Linked DNA regions of Homo sapiens: all the other regions are linked to region 1. The links come from fine-mapping of genetic effects on gene expression. A gene starts in region 1. Each other region holds a variant in brackets. All regions are shown on one strand. Distances are from middle to middle. Region 1 holds the start of NOC4L (nucleolar complex associated 4 homolog). Region 2 has its middle 56 kb from the start of SNORA49. Region 3 overlaps EP400 (E1A binding protein p400). Region 4 has its middle 20 kb from the start of LINC02361. Region 5 holds the start of SNORA49 (small nucleolar RNA, H/ACA box 49). Region 6 overlaps LOC124903058 (a long non-coding RNA gene). Region 7 holds the start of EP400 (E1A binding protein p400).

Region 1 (4,091 bases):
AGGCTTGGAAGCTCTCATCTCGGGGTGGCAAACTCAGTGCTTTCAGGGCCCAGGCAAATGACACCACAAAGCAAAAGAGCCTCGTGCGGGATGACAGGAGCACACGGCTGTCTCAGAGCTGTCTCTGACTCTCCCTCCAGCCAATCGCAGCCATGAACAAACTTAGACCCCGTGTTGACAGAACTGATTATTTCTTTCTGAGAAGGTGGAAACTGGTTATTTTCACGTGGTATCTCCCCAACATTTAAAAGTCTGCAGCTCGGCTATAATTATAGACAGACGTGTTGGCGAGGATGTGGAGTATGGAACTCTCAAATGCTGCCAGGGGGAGGGTAAGATAGCGCAGCTACTATGGAAAACAGTCTTGTAGTTCCTCAGAACATTAAAAACACAGCTGCTGTGTGGCCTTGTAATTCCACTGATAAGGCATATTCAAGCAAAAGAAACATCACACAAGAGTTTGTACGCGAACGTTCACAGTCCGCTGTTCGTAACAGCCAAAGGTGGAAACGACGCAAATGCCCAGCAACCTACGAGCGGCTGAACGATACGTGCTGTGCTATACGACGCGCTGCTACTCAGCCACAAAGAGAACGAACTTCGAACACGCCGATGAGTGGAAGAAGCCACATACCGTATGATCCCCCTTATGAGGAGCGTCTAAAAAAAGCAAACCCATTGATCCAGGAAGTAACCACTGATCCAGGAGTGGCTGCCTGGGGCTGGGGGTGGAAAGGGGCGGGATATGGAAGCGATGGTAACTGGTACAGGATTTCTTTTCGGGGCGATAAAGATGTTCTGGGATAGCGGCAACCACTGCACAACACAGTAACAGATGCTAACTTCTCAGCTTTAAACGGTAAACTGTGCCTCAGTTATTCCTCACTACAGATTTTAAGAAAGCTCATAATGCATTCCCATGGCTGCAGACCACAGTGTGATCTGAGCAAACACATCTGTGGACTGGCACGAGGCTTGGTGTGCGTGCTCTATGCAAACACAGAGATCCCCGTGGATGCCACTGGAAATGAACACGGATTCTGCGTCTTCAATATTCACTACAGGACTCGATAGCCATGTTTCTGAATGGGACTGAACACCCACAGGGTGATGCTCCCATGAAGGAAGCAGCTTTGCCTGGACAATTGTGGGAGCCCCAGACCTCTGCTTTGTGGATAACCTGGGAGTTGGGGTGCAGGGGATGGACAAGGATGAGGCCAGCCCAATGACCCACCTTGACCTGAAAGGAGGGGTGGCCCAGGAGCTCTCCCAAGCGATTGCAGCAGCTGTGATAGCGGTGTCTCATCCACACCTTGTACTTCCGTGTGGCTCCCTGGGACCCTGCAGACAGGTTAGGGTGGTCAGCCCACGTGAGGCCCACATACGCCACCCTGGGCCCAGCCCAAAATCTCAGGCCTGGCTCCACCCTCCCATTGTCTTCTACTCAGCCTCCGCAGGTGGAAACAGGTCGCTAAGGCCCCCAGACCTGTGCTGAGACCAGCACATTCCCTGAGCCCTGCAAACAGGAAGAGCACCTCCTACCCCAGGACTGCCCCAGCCAAGCTGCCAGGAGCAGGATCCACATCCCCTCTCTTTACTCCAAGACCTGACGTCCCCAGGATGGGGACATAAAGGAAGCTCCGAGTTTAAGCGACCGTGTCAGGATCAGTCAACATCAAATTACAAAAGGGGTGCAAAGCACACAAAAAGTCGTACCTTGTCCAGTGTTCATCTACACTCAGCTGCAGGGCACCCATGTCACCCCTGCCCCAACGCCACCATCCATCTTCCACGGTGGGCTTGGTGCGTCCTCCCACCAGCCTGCACGGCCTGTGCCAGGGTTGGGGGCGCTCATCCCATGGTGACAAAGCCTCCCTCCGACCCACGGAAAGAGAAGAGCAGCCCCGGGGCCCTCCAGGGCTCACCTGTCATGACCATCTCCTCAGAGGGCAGCTGGCCCACAAACAGCTCTCCCCGCTCCAGCAAGGCCCCGAAAAGACGGCTGCACGTGCGGACTGCTTCCTGGATCTCCTCCTGGTCCTCAGACTGCAGGAGAGGCGGCGGCAGGGTGCCCGGCCGCCAACTGTCACCTTCGCCCCTGCCTAGGCTGCCCCCAACCCGTTCCCTTCCCCCTCGGGACGCCAGCCCCGTCACCCCCGACCCGTGACCCACACGCCTCCCACCCTGACCCCCCAACGCCGTCTCGGAACCTCCTGGGGACCTGCCGCCGCAGCCCCCCATTCAAGTCCCGCTCCCGTGCCGCGACTCCGGCCCTGCGACGCCGCCAGGCCCACCTGCAGCACGGCCAGGATGTCGAACACGGCGTTGGCCTCACTGCGGCTCGCCAGCACCGCCTCCAGCCGGCGGCCCAGAGCCCGGCGAACTCCCGCGGCGCCCGGCTCCCGCTCCATGCCGCCCCCAACACGGAACAACGCGGATTCTCAGCCGCCGGCGCTCCCGTGACGTCACCACTGCGCGTAGAACCCGACGTCATCTCTACGCGCCGTACCCCAACCCCATCTTTTGCGCGGAGCCCGAGTCGCAGGCGTGCCGCCGACGTCATCGCAGCGCGCCACGCCCGAGTCCCAGGCGTGCGGCTGGCCATGGCGCTGTTCTACGTCGCGCGGTACCCGGGCCCCGATGCGGCAGCTGCGGCGGGGCCGGAGGGCGCGGAGGCCGGGGCGCACGGCAGGGCCCGCGCGCTGCTCGAGCGGCTGCAGAGCCGGGCCCGCGAACGGCAGCAGCAGCGGGAGCCCGCGCAGACCGAGGCGGCTGCATCGACCGAGCCGGCGACCAGGAGGCGACGGCGGCCCCGGCGGCGGCGGCGGGTGAACGACGCGGAGCCGGGGAGCCCGGAGGCGCCGCAGGGAAAGCGACGGAAGGCGGACGGCGAGGACGCGGGCGCAGGTGGGCCGCGGGGCGAGCGGGCTCCCTCTGGGGCGCCGGCGACTCGGTGCTGACGCGCTGCCGGGTGGGTGTCTGCCTCGCAGAAAGCAACGAGGAGGCGCCAGGGGAGCCCAGCGCAGGGAGCAGCGAGGAGGCGCCAGGGGAGCCCAGCGCAGGGAGCAGCGAGGAGGCGCCGGGGGAGCGCAGCACCAGCGCCAGCGCCGAGGCGGCCCCAGATGGACCGGCCCTGGAGGAGGCGGCCGGACCCCTGGTCCCCGGCCTGGTGCTGGGGGGGTTCGGGAAGAGGAAGGCGCCGAAGGTGAGCCTCGGCGGGCGGGAGGGTGGTCGGCGTGAGAGGGTAGGCTGCGCGGATTCTTAAGTGCGGCGGTCGCCCCGGAAGATTTCGTTCAGCGAATGTTCCCGGGTCACAGCCGCGCCTCGCTGCCAGGTCTGCAGTTTCATCGCCTAGGGGTCTGGATCCTGCACGTGCAGAGCTCCCGTTTCCTCTGCTAGGCTTGCCCCTGTCCTCCCGCCGCGCCGCGCCAGTTCTGCAAGATGTGTTTGCGTGAACGTGCGGGGTTTCCTGCTGTGCGCTCACCGCCTCAGGAGTAAGTCAGAGGCCGTTCTGCAAGCTCCTGACCGTTGGTGTTTTTGCTTAGCACGTGTGGTTTTCGGTAAAGAGATTTCCGGCGAGACAGGTGAAGAAAGCGAGAAGTTTGACAGAGTGCTCGGGCACCTTAGGTAGGGCAGGTGGAGGAGGTTCTCTTTGAGTTGGGATGCAAAGACTTGAAGCCAGGTCAAGGTTGGGGGTTGGGGGTGCCAGGCAGAGGCCTCGAGGCAGGGACGCCGGCGTGGCTGGGGCAGGCGAGCGCCAGGTCACAGGACCTCCTGGCTGCGGGAGGGTGGGTGCCACTGTGGGTTGATGGGAGGCTACAGAGTGAGTTTGCTCAGGGAGTGGCATCTGCTTTTACTGTTTAACTTCTGAAGGCTGTATGGAAAGCGCATCCTGGGGCTGAGAAGGAGCTGAAGACGACAGAGGTTTCCCCAGCCTCCCTCCCCTAGCTTTTTCCACCGTGGGCTTCTGCGCGAGAGCCTGGAAAGCGCTCACCTGGCCTCTCTTTCTTTTTGATGGCAGGTCCAGCCTTTCCTGCCAAGGTGGCTGGCTGAGCCTAACTGTGTCAGAAGGAATGTCACCGAAGACCTGG
Region 2 (4,091 bases), 58 kb after region 1:
TATATTTCAAAATTTCTGAAAGAGTAGATTTTAAATATTTTCACCACATAAAAATGGTGTGTGAGGTGATGGGTTTGTTAATGAGCACAATTTCATCATTCTGTAATATAAACACATTAAGACATCACGTTCTTCATAAATATATAATATATACAACAATTATTTATCAATTAAAAATTAAGGCCAGGCATGGTGGCTCACGCCTGTAGTCCCAGCACTTTGGGAGGCTGAGGTGGGCAGATCCCTTGAGGCCAGCAGTTCAAGACCAGCCTGGGCAACAGGGCAAAACCCTGTCTCTACTAAAAATACAAAAATTAGCTGTGCACTTGTGGTCCCAGCTACTCAGGAGGCTGAGGTGGGAGAATTGCTTGAGCCCGGGAGATCAAGCTTGCAGTGAGCCAAGATTGTGTCACTGCACTCCAGCCTGGGTGACAGAGTGAGACTCTGTTTCAAAAAACTTTCCTTTAAAATTTTTAATTACATTAAAATAAGAAAAAGAAATGGTAGTAGCATCTAGGGGGGAAAAGGTTATCCCCTACCTTACACCATTTCAATCAGAATAAATAACTAAATGTTATCATGGAAGGAAGAGGAGGCAGGGAGGAAAGGAGGAAAACACCCCTACCTCATACCATTTCAGTCAGAATAAAGAACTAAATGTTATCCTGGAAGGAAGGAAGAGGAGGCAGGGAGGAAAGGAGGAAAACACCCCTACCTCATACCATTTCAGTCAGAATAAAGAACTAAATGTTATCCTGGAAGGAAGGAAGAGGAGGCAGGGAGGAAAGGAGGAAAACACTTTATTGGAATAATATTTCGGGGACTATCTCTACAACTGCGAGGTGGTGAAAGCTTCTTAATAAGTAATGCAGGAAACCCAGATGCTGTAAAGGAAAAAATACATGACTACATAAAAGATGTTTTAAACAAGATCAAAAGACAAAAAATAATTAGCAGAAAAATACATGCAATATTTTATTACTTCAAAGGGTAAATATCCCTGTTATCCAAAGAGTTTGGCTGGTTGCGGTGGCTCACACCTGTAAGTGCAGCACTTTGGGAGGCCAGGGCAGGCAGATCACTTGAGGTCAGGAGTTTGAGACCAGCCTGGCCAATATGGTGAAATCCCATCTCTACTAAAAAATACAAAAATTAGCCAGGTGTGGTGGTGCCCGTCTGTAATCCCAGCTACTCTGGAGGCTGAGGCGGGAGAATCACTTGAACCTGGGAGGCGGAGGTTGCAATGAGCCGAGATCACACCACTGCACTCCAGCCTGGGCGACACAGCAAGACTCCATCTCAAAAAAGAGCTACTATAAAATAGTTAAAAAAAAAAAAGAAAAGAAAAGAAAAGGAAACCTCTCCAGGAAATGGGGAAGAACACAATGGAAAACTTCAGAAGAGGCACTGCCAATGGGCCAGTCCACGAAGTGCAGCACACGGCGCCAGCAGGACATGGCAGCACCCATTCAACAGGCAGTATGTCAGACGGGAGCAAAGCGTCCTCCCCTTCATGGCTTCAGGAATGTAACTTTGCTATAACTTTGGGAATAGATCTCTCAATAACTATTGAAATTTAAATGTTAAATATGCATACCCTTTGACCCACTAACACCATTTAGCTCCCCTTCATGGGAATCTAGCCTGTAGAAATGAAAGAAAGTGTCAGGACCCATGCATAGGAATGTGTCTCTCAGTACAAACTGTGGCAAAAAAACAGACACAAAATGAAATCCATCAATGGGGAATGGTTGACTAAATATGTTGTATCCTCAGTACGGACTATTATGTAAACATAAAAAGAATAAATTTTTGCCTGTAATCCCAGCACTTTGGGAGGCTGAGGCAGGCAGATCACAAGGTCAGGAGATCGAGACCATCCTGGCTAACAC[A/C]GTGAAACCCCGTCTCTACTAAAAATACAAAAAATTAGCCAGGCATGGTGGTGGGTGCCTGTAGTCCCAGCTACTCGGGAGGCTGAGGCAGGAGAATGGCGTGAACCCGGGAGGCGGAGCTTGCAGTGAGCTGAGATCGCGCCACTGCACTCCAGCCTGGGCGACAGAGCGAGACTCCGTCTCGAAACAAAAAAAAAAAAAAAAAAGAGAATAAATTTTTATTTCCTGACATGAGCAGATGTTGAAGACATATTACTAACTGAAATGGAAAAAAAGATGGAGGGTGTTATTACAGCACAAAAGGACTGAAAAGGACTTATTTTTCTGTATTGTTTGAATTCTTATGAGGGTACATTTTGTAACATCAAAAAGCAAATTAAAAATATGGCTCATTCCAAGGTACAAAAAATTACTCTGGCAAATCAAAGTTTTTCAAAGTATCTTCAGACTCAAAGAAGTCAAAAAATAAGCTGGACACAGATAGACACTATTTGTTCCTGTAGCAGCTGGAAACCACAGTGAAAGGGCGTTGGCTTTTCCTCCTTAGAAGGGCCTCAGCACCTGACTTTGGAGAGAGCCCATTCTTTGCCATTTTTCCTCTACATGGTGGTTGTCAATGGACTCTTAGGGGACCAAGAATCACTTTACAACATTCTGTTCTCCTATTCAAAATGGGTCATGCTCCATACTTCTCAGAGTCATCACCCAAAATCATACATTTCAATGCTTTTTCAAACATGTGAATACCACCCAGAAAATTCGTAAGCATGCCATTATCCTCCAGGCCCTTTATTACATGATCACCATCATTAAAGTCCTAACACTTAACCATTTTGTAGTAGTTATGACAACTGTTACCTTAACAGTGAACAGATCAGATGACAACGTATCCATGGCCAGGTGGGACGATGTGGACCCAGGAGGACCTAAAATCATGGCCAAGAGACCTCTGCACCACATGCTGACTCTGTAAGGCCATCTCTCCTTGAGTGCTAGGTATTGTTGAAGGAGGGAGTTTCTACTTGTCTCTACTGTGACTGAACATGAAGTACAGACTTTTATAAGTAATATATATATTTTTTGAGACGGAGTTTCGATCTTGTTGCCCAGGCTGGAGTGCAGTGGTGTGATCTCAGCTTACCACAACCTCCGCCTCCTGGGTTCAAGCGATTCTCCTGCTTCAACCTCCCAAGTAGCTGGGATTACAGGCAAGCACCACCACACCTGGCTGATTTTTTTTGTATTTTTAGTAGAGACGGGTTTCTCCATGTTGGTCAGGCTGGTCTCGAACTCCCGACCTCAGGTGATCTGCCCGCCTCAGCCTCCCAAAGTGCTGGGATTACAGGCATAAGCCACCACACCCAGCATAAATAATAATTTTTAAAAGTGCATTAGTTTAGCAAAAACGTGACAGGGATGTCAGTGAAACACCTTTGTGTTACAACTGTCATTTTGTACACCTTGGACAATTCCATTCAACGAACAATTTAGTTAGTTTTGAAGTCTCAATAACATAGTCAGAAAAGAAACTGCTGTAATCTCCCCTTATCCATGGATTCAGTAACCCTCGGTGAACTGCAGTTCAAAAACATGTGCGTACAATACAGTAAGATATTTTAGGAGAGAGACATCACTTTCACATGACTTTTATTACAGTATATTGTTACGACTGTTCTATTTTATTATTAGCTGTTATTAATCTCTTCCTGTGCCTAGTTTATGAATTAAACTTTATCGTAGATATGGAAGGATGCATAACAAAACAGTGTATATAGTGTTCACTACTATCCTTGATTTCAGGCATCCATTGAGGGTGTTGGACCGTATCCCCTGAAGATAAGGTGGGGCGACTGCACGTGGATTGAGAGGTGCCCTCACTGCTGCAGAGCTGTGGTAACAACACTCACTTGTGGTTCCCAGACAAGACTCTATCTGGTCGTGAGCCCCCAACAGCCAGTGGTACTGCTGTCCAATCTGACAGATGGAAACCAGCGCCAATCAGCCTGCCTGGAGCGGCACAAATAAGCCTAAGACTCAAACTTTCAGCCAGTTAACTGTAAGTAAACCAACTTTTTGGTAAGGAGGAAATACTCACCCAGCTCTTGGGCAAGATAAGTGTCTTTATTATAAAAGGCGTCAATTCGCAGCGTCTTTACTGTAAAGGTGGTGGTATTATTAGATTCTTCCTTTCCACTAACA
Region 3 (4,000 bases), 170 kb after region 1:
TGCCGTTTACATTTAACCAAGATGGAAAAGGAAAGAAGATGAAAGGGACAGAGGGAATGGACAAAGAGAGGGAGGAAAGAAAGGAAAGAATGTTTTGAAAACAATGGCCTGGCAGTGGTTACCTCTGGGGCAGCATTACAGGTGACATGATTTGTGTGTGTGTGCGTTTCTAAATTTCCCAAATGTTCTATAATGAACATGTATGACCAATACAACCAAAGAAAAGAGTATTTTTTAATTAAAAAAAAAAAAAACTTGATAAAGGGCTCCGTGTCCAGTAATGGCCAAGTACTTCCTATCCGGTCAAACATAATCCAGGTAACAAGGCCGGGCATGGTGGCTCACGCCTGTAATCCCAGCACTTTGGGAGGCCGAGGTGGGTGGATCACAAGGGCAGGAGATCGAGACCATGGTGAAACTCCGTCTCTACTAAAAATACAAAAAAAAAAAAAAATTAGTCAGACGCGGTGACGGGTGCCTGTAGTCCCAGCTACTCGGGAGGCTGAAGCAGGAAAATGGCGTGAACCCGGGAGGCAGAGCTTGCAGTGAGCCGAGACTGCACTACTGCACTCCAACCTGGGTGAAAGAGCGAGACTCCGTCTCAAAAAAACAAAAACAAAAACAAAAACAAAAAACATAATCCAGGTAACCATAAACTCTAGATGAAATACAAAAAAATATGAAAAGGTAGGCCAGTGATACAGGAAGGGAAGTGATATTCGCAAGAAGGGAATAGAACACGGTAAGGTTTCCAGTTTCATGGCATTTGGCATGAGGGCAGCCCCAGTCTGTGCTCTATGGAACGGCTCAAACCTAAAGACACATAGCATCTCACTGGCTTGAACAAGAGGACAAAGAGCAAGAGACAGATGGAAAAGGAGGAGGCCCCACATTCTCTCCCTAACCTCCACCTAAACCATGTACACAAAAACAGAATCCAAGAGAAGGCCCAAGTACTGAACTGAGTTTTCAGGTGCCTCCTGCCACAAAGGAGAAAGAGTATGCAGGTTTTTTGTTGCTGTTTGGCGTTTTTGTTTTTTGTTTTTTTGAGACAGAGTCTCGCTCTGTCGCCCAGGCTGGAGTGCAATGGTACGATCTCGCCTCACTGCAACCTCCACCTCCTGGGTTCAAGCGATTCTCCTGCCTCAGCCTCCTGAGAAGCTGGGACTACAGGTGCGCCACCATGCCCGGCTAATTTTTGTATTTTTAGTAGAGACAGGGTTTCACCATATTGGCCAGGCTGGTCTCAAACTCCTGACCTTGTGATCCACCCGCCTCAGCCTCCCAAAGTGCTGGCATTACAGGCGTGAGCCACCACACCCAGCCAGAGTGTGCATTTTTAATTCAATCAAGTTAAGTGTTAAAGAAAATAAATACGTTTCAGAAGAATATAACAGAACCCAGGGTTTCTACATATCATGCACAATTGTACAAAATCCAATTCAAACTTACTCCAAAATACAAACAAAATTACTCCAAAATACAAACAAAAAACACGAGCCATACTCAGACACCAACCTCAAGATGACCCACGTACTAGAATAAGCAGGCAAGGATATTAAAGTGACCTTAATATGTATGCCCAAGGTCATAAAGAAAAATATACT[G/A]CAATAAAAGACAAGAAGAAATCTTGACAAAACAGAAACTATTAAAATAAAGAGCGAAATGGAGATACTAGAAGTGAAAAATACAACATCCGAAATAAAAAAAAATTCATTGGATAGGCGTAACATCAGTGTGGAGATGTGAAAAAATCAGTCGGGGCATGGTGACTCATGCCTATAATCCCAGCACTTTGGGAGGTCAAGGCAAGAGGACTGCTTGAGGTCAGGAGTTCAAAATCAGCCTGGGCAATATAATGAGACCCCATCTCCAAAAAACAAACAAAAAATTTTAAATTGACCAGGCGCAGTGGCTTATGCTGTATTTCCAGCCATTTGGGAACCTAAGGTACACAGATCACTTGAGGTCAGGAGTTCAAGACCAGCCTGACCAACGTGGCGAAAATTCATCTCTACAAAAATACAAAAATTAGCTAGGTATGGTGGCACAGGCCTGTACTCCCAGCTACTTGGGAAGCTGGGATGGGAGGATCACTTCAGCCCTGGAGGCTGAGGTTGCAGTGAGCCGAAAGAACGCCACCACACTCCAGCCTGGGTGACAGAGTGAGACCCTATCTCAAAAAAAGAAAAAGAAAAAAAAATTTAAAAATCAGTGAGCCTGAAAAAAGATTATTGAGAGAGAAGAACCAAGTGAAGGACCTGACTTCAAGACACGCCCCAAGACTCCAGGAACCAGGACAGTGCAGTGCAGCGCTGGCGTAAGGACCAACACACAGATAAGAAGAACTGAGCTGCGCACCAAGAATCAGACCCACGCTCACACAGTGTTCCAAAGCCTCTAAGGCAATCCAATGGGGAACAGACAGTCTTTTCAACAAACGGTGCTAGAAAACTGGATATCTACATGAACACACGGATAAACTGGACTTCATTAAAATGAGAAACTTCTGCTCAAGAAGCACTGACAGGGAGGACTGTGCGCCCTGTTGACTGCTCCCCGGCTGTGGCTGACACTCAGCCTGCTTCCCAGAGGACTCAGGACACACGGGTCCTGCTGCCCCTGGGTTCTGCAGAAGACACAGGAACTCCTCCAGGCACGGCACACTCAGCCTTGGTTTTCAGAATTATTTTTAGTTTTACCTTATTCTGTCTCCATGAAGGTATTATTGGTAAAGATACTCTGGTCTTTTTTTTTTTTTTTTTTTTTTGAGATGGAGTCTCTCTGTCGCCCAGGATGGAGTACAGTGGCACAAGCCCTGCTCAATGCAACCTCTGCCTCCCGGGTTCAAGCAATTCTCCTGACTCAGCCTCCCGAGTAGCTGGAATTACAGGCGCCTGCCACCAAGCCCGGCTAATTTTTTGTATTTTTAAGTACAGATGGGGTTTCACTATGTTGACCAGGCTGGTTTTGAATTCCTGACCTCGTGATCCGCCCGCCTCGGCCTCCCAAAGTGCTGGGATTACAGAAGATACTCTTGTCTTTAAAATGCAACCTTGATTTTGATCAAAAACCATTATGACAATTCTTTAAAAAAGAGAATTTCTCACAAAGAAAAAACACTCTGAAGGGAATTTAATTCTGGGTGCCCATTTAGGAGAGACAATACCAAAACAGAGCTTATCCATGGAAAACACAGCAGAAGAAAGCTCACAGAACATCTGCCACCTAAAAGGACAGATTGATGGTATTCTGAAGGTAGAAATTAAGACCAATAGTAGTTGGCAGCTACCAAAAGGAAAATTTCTGCCCTATTTAAATAAACAAAGAAATAAACTATGAAGCCAGGTGTAGTGGCTCATGCCTGTAATTCCAGCATTTTGGGAGGCCGAGGCGGGAGGACTGCTTGAGCCCAAGAGTTCAAGACCAGCCCAGGCAACAAAGTGAGACCTCCATTTCTACAAAAAAATTAAAAAACTGGCCAGGCGCGGTGGCTCACGCCTGTAATCCCAGCACTTTGGGAGGCTGAGGTAGGCGGATTACCTGAGGTCAGGAGTTCGAGACCATGCTGGCCAACGTGGTGAAACCCCATCTCTACTAAAAATACAAAAATTAGCTGGGCATGGTGGCACACGCCTGTAGTCCCAGCTACTCGGGAGGCTGAGGTGGGAGAATCGCTTCAACCCAGGAGGCAGAGGTTGTGGTGAGCTGAGATCGTGTTCAGCCTGGCAACGGAGCAAGACTCTGTCTCAAAAAAAAAAAAAAAAAATACAAACACATACGTAAAGTAACGTAAGAAACAACAGTTGGGTTAGGATCACAAAACCATAAATAATTACTCATTTTCTCTAACATCATAATCACTGAAAAAAATGCTCCAATCAGGAGGTTTTTATAAGACATAAATAACCATAATAATATTAGTAGTATTTTTTATACTATAGCTGCACTCAACACAACCACAAAACCTTCTGGAAACAAAGAGAAATACACGCAATGC
Region 4 (4,091 bases), 25 kb before region 1:
CTGCACCTGGGAGGGCCCGGGTGGCTCCGAGCTCCTGGCCTGGCCCCCTGGGGAGGTGACAGTGGGCAGGGCAGGGGCCTCTTGGCTACAGGCCCAGAACGGCTGAAAAATGTGGCCCTTCGGGGACTTTCGGATGCTTTGGAAGGGCTTCCAGTGTCCCTGGTGCCCCCTCACCCCCTGCCAGGTCTTCCCGGTCCCCACCCCCGACACCCCACACATCCCCACGTCTGTGGCCTCGAATGTGCAGGACACGCCTAGGCACGAACCCGACCTCGTCGGAAGCCGTCTCCACCAACACCATCATAGGTGGCCAGGCCTGGTCCCCCAGAGCTGCTCCCTGACCGGCAGCATCACAATTCAAGGCAGATGGAAACCGTCAACGTCTCCACATCGTAGCTACCATGCACGCGGCTGGGCAAGTTCCTCGGTGGGTCCCACGCAGCACTGCACAGCCTGATCTGGCAACAGCTCCACGGGCCCCAGGGACAGAAACTGAGGCCACACCGGTGTCTGCACGCGCGTTCTGCCTGGTGTTGGAGGGTGTGAGTGCACCTGTGCCTGCCTGTGTGTGCTGGTCTCATGGGTGTGCACATGTGTGATGTCCAGTACTCCTTAGGTGGCCAAAAGTCAATGCCCCTTGCTGACGCCCCAAGGTGCCGGGGTTCCCTCCCCAAAACGTGGTCGCGTTGGCTCTCTGGCTCAGCGTCATCGGAACCCGGGGTCCACCAGCCTCCCGCTGGACGGGGCATGGTCCTCGTCCTCATGGGGCTGCAGGGCAGCCAATGTCCTCTTGTTCCCCCCCTCTCCACACACACACCGGGGGACTTCATTTGTGGCCACAGGGTCCCCTGCCGTGCAAACTGTCTCCAGCTCACTCTTTGGCCAGTGACAAGCGTGTTCACCTCCAGCACGGGACAGAACCTGGGAGTGTCTGCCAGGATGGAGAGGGCCCAGCCAGGGCCTGCCCAAGGCACCCCTGTGTATTAAAGGGACCTGCCCCGGGGACATTGGGGGATGGGGACAGAAAGGGGCTGGGGCCATGGCTCGACCACAGTGTGCTTGGAAAAATGTGACTGGAGGATGACGAGGCCGCCCCCGCCCAGCACCAGGCAGTACAGACCCGTTTCCCAGGAGGAGCGGGCCAGGATGTGTGTGGCGGCCAAGGCTGGGGCTGGCGACTTTCTACTCATCTGCTCATTAGATCCGCAAAGTAAATTGCGTTTCTCATAATTCTGCTATCGACTGCCATGTACTTTGTGGTCTGGCACGGGGAGAAAAGAATTTACCCAGAGCAGAGAAATCTGTGTAAATAAATGCATCATTAAGAATTCCTGTAACCGTCAGAAAGGCTGATTAATGGCACTTTTGCTAGTGCAGGAAGAGGGCTGACATCACAACGTTCCTTACTGAGAATGAGGCCTGAGCCCAGCCTACAGAAGGAGGGTGTGAGCCCCGAATCGCTCTCCTGATTAGAACTTGTTCCAAGTATTGACTGGGTCGAAAGAAACAAAATTTAATTTGAAATCAATTCCAGAGCATAAAATTGACCTCAGTTGTGTGTGCTCAGAAGCCACCAGGCCAGTCTGCGAGTTCTTGGTCCAGGCTAGGGGCATCAGACCTCCAGCTGCCCTCCCCACCAGGGAACATGTCCACCCTGCAGAGACTCACAGGATCCCCTCTGCCTTTGCCCTTCTTTTGGGGCGTGGTGGGAGTGCAGAGAGAGCGCCCTCATGAGACCCAGGGTCCTTCCACCCATGCCCCTCAAGCCCACGCCCCACTCAGGTCAGCTCTCCTACCAGGACCCAGGTGCCATGGGAGGTGGGGGGCCAGCAGCCTCAGGGGCCCCCGTGTCAGATGGACAGAGGTTATGCCGCAGACGTCCTGGCCGACATCCGGGGTTTGGGGCCACCTGCCAGTCTCACCTGCCACTGCCCGTGCTGGACACGTGATTCTGGCGGTGGCCCAGGCTCAGGGAGGAACTCAGGCCAGCAGCCAGGAGGGGCAGGTGGGAGCTGCTCAGAGGAGCTGAGACCCCTCAGCGTCCCCGCCCTGGGGTGCCTGCC[A/G]CGGGCAGGGGCTGTGTTCCCTAAAGAACACTGGCCGGCTCCGGCCCTGGCTCCCCGCTGTCTCCCCCTGCCACGCAGCCCACCCTCCCCGAGGTCTCCCCCTGCCACGCAGCCCACCCTCCCTGAGGTCTCCCCCCTGCCACGTGGCCCACCCTCCCCGCTGTCTCCCCCCTGCCACGTGGCCCGCCCTCCCTGCTTCTCCCCCTGCCACGTGGCCCACCCTCCCCGCTGTCTCCCCCCTGCCACGTGGCCCGCCCTCCCTGCTTCTCCCCCTGCCACGTGGCCCACCCTCCCCGCTGTCTCCCCCTGCCACACGGCCCACCTTCCCCAGAAAGCACCTTGGGGTGGGGCCAGGACCAGGGGCCCCTGGCACGTGGGAGTCACACCCAGGACTCAGTGGCCCCCAGCTCGGTGCACAGACGCCAGGGCCAGCCGGGAGGGGCAGGGTGCTGGCCACCACAGGGGCTCCTATCCCCCAGATCCCTCAGTGCACTCCGCCAGAGGGCCGGGACCCCACCAGAAAGGGAGCCGGTGCGGCACAGCAGGCAGGGTGCACCCGGGACTCTGCATTTCTAAGAAGGCTCAGCCGGTGCTGGTGCTCCTGGCCCTGTGACCACGTGGAGCCATCCCACCACCCGCCGTGGGAGCAGACGCCCTCCCTGCTGGCCCCATGAAAGGCCCACGGGGTCCCTGGCCCACAACCCAACTCCTTCCCAACCCCGCATCCTGCTCCCTGGCATCAAGAAAGGATGTACCCCCAGAGCCAGGGACAGCCTCAGCCCCGGCACCATCGGAGTTGGGGCCCCGGCTTCTAAGCCTGGCGCCAGCACAGCCCAGGCAGCTCCTCCGACGTGAGGCTCCTCGGAAGGGCAGGCTTTGCCGGGCTCCTGCCGTCTGGGTCTGTACTGCAGTCGGCAGTCCCCACCCACGCTCAGCAGCCCTGGCCCAGCAATGGACTATCCCGTTATCCCGGCCTAGACCCCGTCTCAGCATCGGCCCCCAGAGGACCCCAGTGGGCCCCCCTCCCCACAAGCTCACTGTGCTGGGACGTGTGGCCGGCCTCACTGTGACTTGCAGAAAGCCCATGGAGAAGGCTGTTCCCAACCCGTTTCACTCAGGGGAAACTGAGGCTCAGGACCTCAGTGGCGAGCAAGAGGGCTGGCTGCAGAGCCCCTCCTCCCAGCTTGTTCATCTCCTCCAGTCCAGCCCAACCAAAGGCCACAGCTGGGAAGCCCCGTGGGCCTGAGGCTCAGCAGCGTTCCTGGGGACCCTCGTCCAGCCCCGCTGACGCTGCCGCCAGACCAGCTCTGACCTGGGAAGAGCCCAGAAGGCTCAGCCCCCAGGCCAGAAAGTGACTGCCCCCACATCCTGCCCTCCACAGCCACTCCAGCGCCTCCCCGACCCCTACACTCAGCTGTGTCTCGGGATCCCCAGGTTTCAATCCCTGCCAGGTTTCCAGAAATGCTGATTCACCTCGGAAACCGCACGTGCTGTGGGCGTGCACATCTGGCGAGAACAAAGCCATCGTGGGCAACCCTTGGGGACGCTGTTTCGGCCTCGTGTGTTGTTATTAAACCTACCGATTTCCGCCTGGGTTCTGGCCCACGTGACCTCCTCTGCTGCTGTGTGAATGGCCCCCGTCCTGCACACTTACCGCCCCAGCAAATCCCAATGCCAGCTCTGCCTCCCTGCCACCGGCCACTCTCCTTCCAGCTTGCCCTTGAGAGGCTCAGGGCTCCGGGCAGGGAAGAGGCTGCAGAGAGGGAGGGTGGCCCCGAGCCGGGTGTTTTCCCAAAAGCTCCTCGCTTGGGTGCCCACCCTAGGTGGAGGAGTGACCCCTTCAGGCTCACAGCTGCGGCCGCCTACTGCCTTCTAACAAGAACCCCACAGCTGAGTGGCTTAAGCAATGCCAATCACTTTATCTCCTCCCTTGGATTCTGTGGTCGGAGTGTCTGGCTCAAGGAGAGGAAGAGTAGGGCCCAGAGGTCTCTCTGCGTTGCCATTTCAGCATGGCAGCTTCGGGTGCCT
Region 5 (4,000 bases), 110 kb after region 1:
AACTCCTCATCAGTTCCTAAGATGAAACAAAACACAGGAGTTAGTATTCTTGGAAAATGTTGGGAAACCTTTGACACGTTTCAACATTTATTAATTAGAAATAATCCCACAGCAGGCCGGGCGTGGCGGCTCACACCTGTAATCCCAGCACTTTGGGAGGCCGAGGTGGGTGGATCACAAGGTCAGCAGATCGAGATCATCCTGGCTAACATGGCGAAACCCCGTCTCTACTAAAAATACAAAAAATTAGCTGGGCGTGGTGGCAGGCGCCTGCAGTCCCAGCTACTTGGGAGGCTGTGGCAGGAGAATGGCGTGAACCCGGGAGGAGCCTGCAGTGAGCCAAGATTGCGCCACTGTACTCCAGCCTCGGCGACAGAGCAGGACTCTGTCTCAAAAAAGAAATTATCCCATAGCAAAACTGCTTGGTTTGTATTCCATTCAACACGAGGCTCATGTTAAAGCAACACCAAGGTCCCCGCACTGTATTCCAGCTCTTCTGTGCAGCCACTATCATCTTACGCTCACCCATCGCCAACACCCTCATGCACAGTTTAAATAACATCAGCCATGAGTGACAAGAAGGAAAAAGTTAGAGTCCACCTTGCATTTACTGTCAGCTCAACTTGTAGGCCCCAAAAGAAAACAGCGTCTTACTGGGGAGGGATATGTGCTTTCTCATCTATCCTCAGGCAATGCCAGAGCACTTTACAGGCAACAAAAAGTCCCTGGAGTAAGGCTGAGGAAGCAGGAAAAACAAAACCGTGAAGGATAGTCCTCTAACCTCACTGTTGACCATGAAGGGAGATGACTTGAATACTTTTCTTCCATAACGATTTCTGTGCCAGAAACGAAACCTAATCACTGACCAACTCTCTTCCTTCCAGGCATTCTACAGATAATTTGCTATAATATTACCAAGAAAACTTGTTAAATCACCTTTTGCTCTATTTCTTTCTAGGCCTCTCCAGCGTGTACATGAGCGTGTGTGTGAGATAAAGCAGGCTGCGCGACTTACAGGGCAGCAACTTGGTTTTGCGCTGGGGGACACTGGGCCATGCTACTAAAACTGGCTCTGAAATGCTGCTGACAAGGGCCTAGCACACCACGTGAAATGCTGGGCAGTTTCTGCTCATGAAGCTGCCAGGGCACGGGGCCCATGGACAACCCCTTATGCACTCACTCTTCTGCTGAACACTGACTTTGTTCTCAACTGTGAATTACCATAAACATTTCAACAACAACTATGTAGACAGATCTTAAGTGGTGTGTTTGTTGTCATGTAAGTAAAGGGTCCTAAATACAGAATTACTAGGTCAAGCATACATCACTATTAAGGTTCAAATCCATACTGCCAGGCTGCCTTCTAGAACTATACTAGTTTATGCTTTCACGGGAGGATATGAGAGTGTCTGACTCACTGTGCCTGATGAAACAAAACAGCCTTGGCAAATCTTGTAAGTAAACAATGGGCATATTACCCTAACTTGTATTTCCCTTCATTCTAAATTGGTTGGAATTGTTTTCATATTTTTACCCTGTAGCCACCTCTTGAAGTACGCCAGTATCGTCTTAATGATGATTGCAGGTCACCGGCATTTATTCTGAGACATCAAGACTGCATTTACCTAACAACGTGGCTTTTAATAAAAAATATCGAAGGATGGATTGAGACTTTAAAAAGTTCAGAAGCTCATTAAGTCCCTCCCCTTTCACTTAGAAGGGCCATGAGACCACTGAATTTACACAGCACTTAGGCATTCAACACCAGTGACTGACCCATCAGAGACAATGTAAACAATGTGCTTCTCACCTGCCGTTGCTCACTGCTGGCATTTTCATCGATTCTTACATAGGTGAGGTAATGGAAGTTCAAGAACATCTCTAAAATGTCCAACATAAGAATCATCTGTGATAAAATCAGCACCCGACGTCCTTCAGATTTCAATTTCTGAAGCAAGATAGCTAAAGCTTCCAACTTCCCTGGGAAACGAATCACATCAAGAGCGCCTCATCATCCAGGGCCGGTGCAGCTCCCGCACGGGCCACGCCCCCAACTGCC[G/A]CATACCTGAGTCGAACTGCACCAGCCTCAGCTCAGGGAACTGCAGCAGGCGTGGAGCCGTGGTCTGCCGCAGCTGCTGGAAGTACGGCGCAGCGTGCTCTCTCAGGCCCTGCCTCAAGATCCTCATTCTGTGGCTGTACAGGGGTGGCGGCCGCGGCACCCGTAGGGACGGGGGTGCTGCCACCACCGGAGGAATCACAAAGGCCACCCTGAGGAGCAGAAAGCATGTTTTGTCACCACCAGGAGCCACACACCTTCACCCAGCATGGGGGCTCCTGAAAGATGGGGCAGACTTCTGACAGTCCAAGTCCCAGGAAACAGCAGGGCTCAACCCAGTCACATGGGGATGTGGGTGTTGGCACACGGGCAGGGGCCCAACGAGGCAGATCCTAACCAGTCCTGGCCAATAACCACCACCTCGGGGACTAATTCAGACAGTCCAGGGCTGATGGATCAATGGGGGTGGATTCCCTAGGCCGCAGGCACCAGGTCAGAGATAAGCCATTCTCTTTCTAGTGTGTCTTCAGCTGGAAACTTTGGGACAAAGGTGCACTGTCTCGTGGACCCTAGAACTGCTATAGCCACTGTGCCACCAGGACGGGGGCCAGACTCAGGGTGAAGGAGCCTTCAGGACAATGACAATAGAGCGAAGATCGCACAGCCAACCTAAGGCCCACCTTGCAACCTGTGGAGGTCACCTGCACCAGAAGGCCCTTGCTATGGACATCAACTATGACTCACTCCCAGCTGTATTCAAACTGAACGAATGGTCACCCATGATGTTCAATGAGGGAGGAGTACACAAAGACAAATCAGTACTCGAAAGAAAAACTCCAGGAGCACAAGGTCACTGACATAGTCACTCCCAGACCAGGAGAAGCCAGAAGTGGCTTGTTCGGCCTTGGAGAAGCACTCCCAGTTTTCTTTTTTTCCATTAATTCTGCTTCCTGATCTGAAAGAACTGAAATAGGTAGATCCTGAAAGCTGAGCTGAGCCAAGGCACAGGAAGAAGCCAGGTTGCCCTCTGCAGACAGGAGACAACTGAGAACTACAACAGCTGCAAAGAAGGGAAGAAAACATGTCTGAAGTGGAGCCTGGAGATGGGGTCCAAGCAGGGAGTGGAAATGCAAACAGGGTAACGCACTCTACTGAAAGCAAGCTCAGTTGAGAGCGGCCGGGTGCCCACCGTGCCCACCGGTGCTCAGATTTGCTCTCCATTAAAGCACGTTCTGAGATCAACTCCTGCCCACATTTGTCATCATGTAATGTTCACTCACTCATGGGGCTCTTTTAATGCAATCATTTTTTGAAAGAGTCAAATGGAGAAAGTCCTTAGCAACACAGTGATCTGTCCCCAAGCACAGTGTGAGCTCAGTGCTGCGGCTCTGCCCCCAGGGCTGCCAACTTCCTTCAGAAGCCGCACCTGGCACTGAGACCCAGATAACAAAACCATCTGATCCCAAAGCTGAAGACCTCAAAGACTAACTTCAAAACAGACCGCTAAGGGACAGCGTGGGGAGAAGCCGATGGGAGTAAGATGTACATCCACGAGACAAGAAGGGGTCTTGCCGGGGTGCAATGCAGCCAGAGAGCACCGAAAAGGTCACGAGGTCTGCAGTACCTGTCAATAACATCCTGCAGAGACTCTCCACACCGACAAAGCGTCAACATCAGCTCACTTGGACTTTCTGAGGATGAAGTGTAACTGTGCGCTGGCCCGGCCTCCTTCCCACGACGGCCATCCAGGGACCCACGCCACTGTACCCTTCCATGGCTAGGCAGGGCACAAATCCTTAGCAAGTCTCTGCCATAGACTGGAGCTTGAGAACAGCGCCGCTCGTTGACTAAATAAATCTGATCCAGGCGCTCTTTCAAGAGTCTGGTCTTTTCCTCCTTTATCAAAAAGTGATGAAAAACAGTTACTTGAGAAACAGAATGACA
Region 6 (4,091 bases), 280 kb after region 1:
GTGGATTGGGCCGTGGCACCAGCGTGCATCCAGCCTTCCCACCGCTGGCCTGTGGGTATCCTGCCCTTCCTGCAGGAGCCAGCCTGGCCTCAGCACCCCGTGGAGGGTGCAGGCGTCCCGGGCTGCAGCTCTGAGCTTGGCCTGTGGCTGCTTGGCCCTGCTGTGGCCCTGCTGTGGCCCTGCTGAGGGTCAGATGCCCGGGCCCTGGACCTGAATGGGAACCATTCTCAGCTGCACCCCAGTCCGCGCACATGGCCATGGGGCAGGGGACAGACCTGCATGGGGCTGAGTGGCTGCGGCTCCTGGAGACCCTGGAGGGAACCCCATGGGCTGCCTCGAGGATGGAGGATCTGATGCCACAAAGGGCTCAGAGCCAGGCCTGCAGCCTGGCCAGCAAGTGACTCAGCTGCGGCCCTGCCAGCCACAGGCCTGGGTGGGCTCATGTCCGTTCCCTGGTTCAGCACCCACGACGTAACTTCTAACCATCCTTCCATGCCCACCACACACCTCGGGCCAAGCTCAGTCATGTGAGCTCCCACCTCAGCCCTGCCAGGCTCATACTCCGCTGGAACCGCACAAGGCTGGCACTCTGTGACTTTAGGATTCAGCCGGATGTCCCCTCCTAAGGGGCTGTCCCTGATCACCTAAACCAAAGCCACGCCTCCCGGGCCCCTGTACTCCTCATCTTCCCCGGCCCACATGGCTTCAAGCTTCCATCACAGGACAACTGGCCCTGATGTTCACTCACAACGTGGAGGAAATAGGAAGCCACTGTAGCTCAAGAGGTTTACACAACTCACGTGGCCCTGGATGGGGTAATCGTTCAAACGAATCCATGTAAAGATATTTTGTGGGGACGGGACACATTTCAATATGGATGGGTCTCACACGACCTTACAAAATCATTGTGTGTGGGGATGGGACACATTTCAATATGGATGGGTCTGACACAACATTACAAAATCATTGTGTTTTTGGTGTTTTTTAGATAAGGGGTCTCACTATGTTGCCCAGGCTGGTCTTGAACCCTAGGCTCAAGCGATCCTATAGTCTCAGTCTCAGAAAGTGCTGGGATTCCAGGCATGACCCATGGTGCCTGGGCCGGAATTGTTAATTTTGTCAAATGTGATCGTGATATTGTTATGTAGGAAAATGTGCACCTTCTTAGAGAGAGAGAGAAAATATTTAGGAGAGACATGTCATGATATCTGTTTTTATTTCAAAATTGCTATAACAAGCACAAAAATAAATAAAGCAACATCCAAAGCCCTCACAATGCTGGAATCTAGGTGCGGTGCTTATAAAAGGCTGTTCATTCAACTACTTTCTTTTAAAAAAAATTTCTTTTGAGACAGGGTCTCACTCTGTTGCCCCAGGCTAAAGTGCAGTGGAGAAATCATAGCTCACTGCAGCCTCCAACTCCCAGACTCAAGCGATCCTCCTACCTCAGCCTCCCTAGTAGCTGGGACTACCAGTGCACACCACCATGCCCGGCTAATTTTTGAATTTTTTTCACAGACGGGATTTTGCCATGTTGCCCAGGGTGGTCTTACACTCCAGGGCTCCAGTGATCCACCTGCCTCAGCCTCCCAAAGTGCCGGAATTACAGTCCACTCCTTTTTTTTTTTTTTTTTTCTGAGACAGAGTCTTGCTCTGTTGCCCAGGCTGGAGTGCAGTGGCGTAATCTCAGCTCGCTGCAACCTCCACCTCCCAGGTTCAAGCAATTCTCCTGCCTCAGCCTCCTGAGTAGCTAAGATTACAAGCACCTGCCACCCTGCCTGGCTAATTTTTGTATTTTGGTAGATACGGGGTTTCGCCATGTTGGCCAAGCTGGTCTCGAACTCCTGACCTCAAGTGATCTACCCACCTCAGCCTCCCAAAGTGCTGAGATTACAGGTGTGAGCCACC[G/A]CGCCAGGCCCAGTCAACTACTTTCTTTTTTCTTTTTTCTTTTTTTTGAGACGGAGTCTCTCGCTCTGTCGCCCAGGCTGGAGTGCAATGGCTTGATCTTAGCTCACTGCAACCTCCACCTCCTGGGTTCAAGCGATTCTCCTGCCTCAGCCTGAGTAGTTGGGATTACAGGCGCCCACCACCACGCTTGGCTAATTTTTGTATTTTTTAGTAGAGATGGGGGTTTCACCACGTTGGCCAGGCTGGTCTCGAACTCCTGACCTCAGGTGATCTGCCCGCCTCGGCCTCCCAAAGTGCTGGGATTACAGGTGTGAGCCACTGCACCCAGCCAAGTCAACTCCTTTCTAAGCTTGAAAATTTTCGTGAAGAAGAAATACTGTATATGAGAAAAGAAAAAAGAACATACTGGGAATTCCTGTATGTTTACTTAAATAATCTTCTCAGACCTTTTTCTTTATTGCTATGTAATACATACATAATAATATACATAGCACATATAAACAGCATAATTAAATAAGGAACACCCTGTAAATCACCACCTCACCCAAAACTAAGAACATCTCCAATTTATTTTTTCTGTTTGTTCTGAGACAGGGTCTCGCTCTGTCGTGCAGGCCGGAGTGCAATGGCAGGATCTTGGCTCACTGCAGCTTCCACCTCCCTGGCTGAAGCAATTCTCCCATCTCAGCTTCCTGAGTAGCTGGGACTACAGCGTGCACCACTATGACTGGCTGTTTTATTTTTATTCTTACTTTTTGTAGAGATTGGGGGCGGGGGGGGTGGTCTCACTAAGTTGCCCAGGCTGGTCTCGAACTCCTGCCTCCAGCGATCCTCCCACCTCAGCTTCTTCAAGTGCTGGGGTTACAGGTGTGACCACCGCGCCCGGCCCAGTCATTTTCATTGTCATCTGTGGTCCTCCCATCCCATCCTCCCAACCTCCCCAACCAGGCTACTCATGCCTGAGTTTTGCGCTTATTATTCCTTTGTTTTTTGTTATTTCTACTGAAGTGTAACCGATTCTCAGTCAAGTGCACTAATATGAAGGGCACAGCCTGATTCATTTTTGCTCACATGCACACCTGTGTCACCACAGCCCCTCAAGATGTAGGGCATCTCAGACCCTAGGAAGCTGGCAGGTGCCCCGTCGTTCCTGACGAGTGAGTCACTGTCCTGATCTCAGCCTCTGGACATTAGCGTGCCCATCCCCGGACTGCACATAAATGGAGTCAGACAGGACTCACCCTGTGTCAGCTGCGAGACTCCCCGCTGACACTGCATCATCTCCTTGCTTCTCACTAAACAGTCTTAGCGCGTATGTGCGTGTGTATACCTAGAAGCTATCTTAGCACGTATGTGTGTGTATACCTAGAAGTGATCTTAGTGCATATGTGCGTGTGTATACCTAGAAGCTATCTTAGCACGTATGTGTGTGTATACCTAGAAGCGATCTTAGTGCGTATGTGCATGTGTATACCTAGAAGCTATCTTTTCCAGCTTTGCTTTTTTTTTTTTTTTTTGAGACAGTCTCACTCTGTCGCCCAGGATGGAGTGCAGTGGTGGGATCTCGGCTCACTGCAAGCTCTGCCTCCTGGGTTCACGCCATTCTCCTCCCTCAGCCTCCCGAGTAGCTGGGACTACAGGCGCCTGCCACCACGCCTGGCTAATACGGGGTTTCACCATGTTAGCCAGGATGGTCTCGATCTCCTGACCTCGTGATCCACCCGCCTCAGCCTCCCAAAGTGTTGGGATTACAGGCGTGAGCCACCGCACCCGGCCTGCTTGTTTTTAAGCTTTATAAAAATAGCACCATAGTATAGAAAAAAAAACACCTGTGTTTCACAGGAAAACTATGCATTTTAAATCAGAGCAGGTACTCCAGGGCTGTCAGATTCTAGCTTTTCGTTGTCTTTGAGCTGTTGTACATCACGTTGTAGGCTGAGGCAACTGACAGACAGAAATTCTTTCTTATCCACCAGGTTCCATTGTCTTTCCTCCCACCTCTTAGGAAAAAAAAAAACAGATTTTCCTGCATTTACATATTCATTTTAATATTCTGTTGTTTTTTTTTCTTTTTCTTTCTTTTTTTTTTTTTTGTTTTTTTTTGAGACAGGGTCTTGCTCCGTCACCCAGGATGGAGTGCAGTGGTGCAATCACAGCCCACTGCAGCCTTGAACTCCCAAGAC
Region 7 (4,091 bases), 190 kb after region 1:
GGGCAACACAGTGAGATAGTGTCTCTACAAAAAATCAAAAATTAGCACGGCGTGGTGCCACACACCTATAGTCCCAGTTACCTGGGAGGAGATCACTTGAGCTCAAGAAGTCACAGCTGCAGTAAAGCTATGATCATGCCACTGCACTCCAGCCTGGGTGACAGAGCAAGACCCTGTCTCCACAACAAAAACAAAAACAAAAACAAGCTATTGGGGCCGGGCGCGGTGGCTCACACCTGTAATCCCAGCACTTTGGGAGGCCGAAGTGGGTGGATCACTGAGATCAGGAGTTTGAGACCAGCCTGGCCAACATGGTGAAACCCTATTTCTTTTTCTTTTTTTTTTTTTTTTTTTTTTTGAGACAGAGTCTCGCTCTGTCGCCCAGGCTGGAGTGCAGTGGCGCAATCTCCGCTCACTGCAAGCTCCGCCTCCCAGGTTCACCCCATTCTCCTGCCTCAGCCTCCCGAGTAGCTGGGACTACAGGCACCCACCACCACGCCCGATTAATTTTTTGTATTTTTAGTAGAGATGGGGGGTGAAACCCCATTTTTCTACTAAAAATACAAAAAAAAAGGCCAGGTGCAGTGGCTCACCATGCCTGTAATCCCAGCAAAGGGGAGGCCGAGGCGGGCAGATCACCTGAGGTCAGGAGTTCAAGACCAGCCTGGCCAACATGTTGAAACCCCCTCTCTACTAAAAATTAAAAAAAAAAAAAAAGTAGGCAGGTGTGGTGGCAGGCACCTGTAATCCCAGCTACTTGGGAAGCTGAGGCAAGAGAATCGCTTGAACCCGGGAGGCGGAGGTTGCAGTGAGCCGAGATCATGCCATTGCACTCCAGCCTGGGCAACAAGAACAAAACTCCGTCTCAAAACAAACAAACAATACAAAAAAATTAGCTGGGCATGATGGCAGGCACCTGTAATCCCAGCTACTCGGGATGCTGAGGCAGGAGAATCACTTGAGTCTGGCAGGCAGAGGTTGCAGTGAGCCGAGATCGCGCCACTGCACTCCAGCCTGGGAGACAGAGTGAGACTCTGTCTACAAAAAAACAATAAAAAGAATAATTACAGAAATTATTTTATTGCACATATTCTGCTAAAGAAAATGACAACACAAATAAGTAAAAAAGAATACAACTCATCCACGAACCCAGAGAGAAGCCCTATTAACACTTCCACGTGTCCCGGCGCGGTAGCTCACGCCTACAGTCCCAGCACTAGGAGGCCAAGGCGGTAGGATTGTTTGAGGTCAGGAGTTCGAGACCAGCCTGAGCAACACAGCAAGACCCCAACTCAAATAATAAAAAATTGGCCGGGCATGGTGGCTCATGCCTGTAATCCTAACACTTTGCGAGGGCGAGGTGGGCGGACTGCCTGAGCTCAGGAGTTCGAGACCAGCCTAGGCAACACAGTGAAACCCCGTCTCTACTAAAACACACAAAAAACTGGCCAGGCGCGGTGACTCATGCCTTCAGTCCCAGCACTTTGGGAGGCCAAGGGGGCGGATCACGAGGTCAGGAGTTCCAGACCAGCCGGACCAACATGATGAAACCCCGTCTCTACTAAAAATCCAAAAAAAAAAAAAAAAA[AAAAAAAT/T]AGCCAGGCGTGGTGGCAGGCGCCTGTAGTCCCAGCTACTCGGGAGGCTGAGGCAGGAGAATCGCTTGAACCTGGGAGGCGGAGGTTGCAGTGAGCCGAGATCGCGCCACTGCACTCCAGCCTGGGTGACAGAGAGAGACTCTTTCTCAAAAGAAAATAACAAAACAAAATAAAAAGTGAGCCGGGCATGGTGGCCCAAGCCTTTGGTCCCAACCACTCGGGAGGTCGAGGCTCTAGTGAGCCGTCATCGCGCCACTGCACGCCAACCTGGGCAACAGAGCGAGACCCCGTCTCAGAAAGTAATTACTAATAAAGCACTGGGATACGTTACTTTTCTGTCACTGACACAGCGACAGCTGAGCAGAAGCCCGTGGGCCGCAGGTGTGTGACGAGAGGCGCCCCCGGGGAGGCAGCGGCAATTACTAAGGCTCCGCCGTGGAGGACCGGGCAGGTCTACGCCGAGAAGGAGCGGATTCGGACCTCACTGTAACCCCTGTGGCGGCGCGTTCCGGGACGCCCGGGACGCGGGGTCCTTAAGTTCTGAGTGAATTCGCCCCGTCGCGCCTCAGGAAAGTGGTTCTGGACGTCCCATCCCCGCATCTCAGCGTCGCGTCCGTGACCCCGAGGGAAGCCCACGCAAGCGCCAGGAGCAAGAGCCACCCCCTCAGCCCCGAGAACCAGGAGGCGCGGGCCGGAGTCCCCCGGTTCCCGCAACGCCGCCGCGCCGAGCTGCCCTCGGCCACGCCCCCAGCCCAGGAGCCCGGGGGGCCACGAGAAATGGGCGCGGATCGCGCGACCTGCGGGGGACGGGCGCTACGACTCGAAAGACCCGGGCCCGTGAGCCCTCAGCCCGGTCGCCCGCCCGGGGTCGCTCACGACAGCCGCCACGGCCTGGTCCCCACGCGACGCCCGAGGCCGGCCGGCGAGCGGGCCCTGTACGCCCGCGGCTGCGGCTACGCGACCCCGGACCCTGGACGCTGCCGTCCCGAGAGCCTCCCGCCCCCGTCCCGCGCCTCCGCCCTCACTTACCCTGGGCCTCAGGGCTGCGCTCCGGCCGCGTCAGGAGGGCGGGAGGATGGAAGCCGCGCCGCAGCCGCTCAGTGCATCCGGGGCCCCGGCGGGAGGAAGCGGCGGCGCGGCTGCTACGGCGAGCCGGAAGGGACGCGCGTCCGCGCGCCCGTAGCTGCGCTTCCGCGGCGCCGCTCTGACCGCGCGAGGGCGCCGGAGGTCGAGGGCGCCGGAGGACTAGGGCGCCGCGAGACTCTGCGGGGTGGGCGGGGGCCGAACCCAAGGCCGAGAGGGACGGAGGGGGGCCGGTCCCAGACAGACGGAGGCGGGGCCGGTCCGAGACAGACGGAGGCGGGGCGGGGCCGAGACTGAGGAAGGCGGGGGCGGGGCCGAGACTGACGGAGTCGCGGCAGCCCGGCTTTTCCACGCGCAGTTCGGGAAATGCGCCCACGTGGAACAGAAGTGGGCCGCCAGCTCTCACACTCTGCAGATTCACCAAACAGACCAGGCTCACATGCAAGACCCAAACCCTGTGTGGCCCAGGCTGGCCTCGAACTCCTGGACTCCAGTGATCCTCCTGCCTCAGTCTCCCGAGTGGGTGGGACCACAGACTCGCGCCACCACCCCTGGTTAATTTTTTGTATTTTTAGTAGGGGGGTTGGTTCACCAAGTTGGCCAGGCTGGTCTCGAACGCCGGACCTCAAGTGATCCGCCCACCTCGGCCTCCCAAAGTGCTGGGATTACATGTGTGAGCCACCACGCCCGGCCAAAAACGACAAAACTCTATTAAAAGACACAGACGTAGCTCACGTCTATAATCCCAGCACTTTGGGAGGCCGAGGCGGGAAGATCATTTAAGGTCAGGAGTTCCAGACCAGCCGGGCCAACATAGTGAAACCCTGTCTCTATTAAAAATACAAAAAATTAGCTGGGCGTGGTGGCAGGCGCCTGTAATCCCAGTTACTCCGGAGGCTGAGGCAGGAGAATCGCTTGAACACGGGAGGCAGAGGTTGCAGTAAGCCGAGATCATGCCACTGCACTCCAGCCTGGGCAACAGAATGAGATTCTGTCTCCAGATAAAGACATAGGCATAAATCTTCGGGGTTGTGGGTTAGGAAATGGTTTCTTAGATATGACACTGAAAACGCAACTAACAAACATAGATATATTGGACATCATCACAATTTAAAACTTTTGTGCTGCAAATGACACCATTTAAAAAAGATAATCCACAGAACAGGAGAAATTACCTTAAGTCCATATGTCTGACATGGAACTCGTGTCCAAAGTAAATAATTTACAACATAACAATTAAAAGGGCAGGCACGGTGGCTGTTGCCTGTAATCCTAGCACTTTGGGAGGCTGAGGCAGTTGTATCCCTTGAGCCCAGGAGTTCAAGACTAGCCTGGGCAACATAGAGAGACCCCATCTCTACAAAAAATTTAAAAGTCAGTCATGGTGGCATACACCTGTAGTCTCAGCTACTC

Evidence for each region.
Region 2: its variant is fine-mapped to the expression of NOC4L in whole blood (TOPMed, PIP above 0.99). The same link has a PIP of 0.9 or more in CD4 T cells, aorta, lung, skeletal muscle, sun-exposed skin and thyroid.
Region 3: its variant is fine-mapped to the expression of NOC4L in whole blood (TOPMed, PIP 0.97).
Region 4: its variant is fine-mapped to the expression of NOC4L in whole blood (TOPMed, PIP above 0.99).
Region 5: its variant is fine-mapped to the expression of NOC4L in prefrontal cortex (GTEx, PIP 0.97).
Region 6: its variant is fine-mapped to the expression of NOC4L in pancreas (GTEx, PIP above 0.99).
Region 7: its variant is fine-mapped to the expression of NOC4L in whole blood (INTERVAL, PIP 0.99).

The regions. Positions count from the first base shown.
Region 1 is chr12:132,142,809-132,146,899 of GRCh38, reverse strand. It overlaps NOC4L (nucleolar complex associated 4 homolog), which reads right to left and starts at 2,443. Exons shown (of 15, transcript NM_024078.3): 1 at 2,295-2,443; 2 at 1,926-2,046; 3 at 1,235-1,341. The coding sequence starts at 2,411. DDX51 (DEAD-box helicase 51) reads left to right here and starts at 2,581. Exons shown (of 15, transcript NM_175066.4): 1 at 2,581-2,907; 2 at 2,991-3,205; 3 at 4,022-4,091. The coding sequence starts at 2,604. RefSeq lists enhancers at 2,361-2,660, 3,590-4,091 and silencers at 2,671-2,720, 2,791-2,990.
Region 2 is chr12:132,085,213-132,089,303 of GRCh38, reverse strand. It overlaps the pseudogene EP400P1. Among named protein-coding and RNA genes, the nearest start is that of SNORA49, 56 kb to the right of the region's middle. RefSeq lists a silencer at 2,690-2,866 and enhancers at 4,051-4,091, 3,642-4,091. The variant A/C (reference allele first, on the strand shown) is at 1,893.
Region 3 is chr12:131,973,758-131,977,757 of GRCh38, reverse strand. The region is part of intron 2 of EP400 (E1A binding protein p400); the gene reads right to left. Among named protein-coding and RNA genes, the nearest start is that of EP400, 26 kb to the right of the region's middle. The variant G/A (reference allele first, on the strand shown) is at 1,608.
Region 4 is chr12:132,167,446-132,171,536 of GRCh38, reverse strand. No RefSeq gene overlaps it. Among named protein-coding and RNA genes, the nearest start is that of LINC02361, 20 kb to the left of the region's middle. The variant A/G (reference allele first, on the strand shown) is at 2,064.
Region 5 is chr12:132,027,969-132,031,968 of GRCh38, reverse strand. EP400 (E1A binding protein p400) reads right to left here. Exons shown (of 53, transcript NM_015409.5): 27 at 3,681-3,952; 28 at 2,066-2,268; 29 at 1,811-1,980; 30 at 1-16. It overlaps SNORA49 (small nucleolar RNA, H/ACA box 49), which reads right to left and starts at 745; the gene lies at 609-745. RefSeq lists a silencer at 3,671-3,965. The variant G/A (reference allele first, on the strand shown) is at 2,060.
Region 6 is chr12:131,864,381-131,868,471 of GRCh38, reverse strand. It overlaps LOC124903058 (a long non-coding RNA gene), which reads right to left. Exons shown (of 2, transcript XR_007063537.1): 2 at 3,936-4,091. Among named protein-coding and RNA genes, the nearest start is that of ULK1, 28 kb to the left of the region's middle. RefSeq lists enhancers at 52-648, 3,789-4,091. The variant G/A (reference allele first, on the strand shown) is at 1,909.
Region 7 is chr12:131,948,570-131,952,660 of GRCh38, reverse strand. EP400 (E1A binding protein p400) reads right to left here and starts at 2,719. Exons shown (of 53, transcript NM_015409.5): 1 at 2,625-2,719. RefSeq lists an enhancer at 1,548-2,255 and silencers at 2,308-3,007, 3,098-3,147. The variant AAAAAAAT/T (reference allele first, on the strand shown) is at 1,589.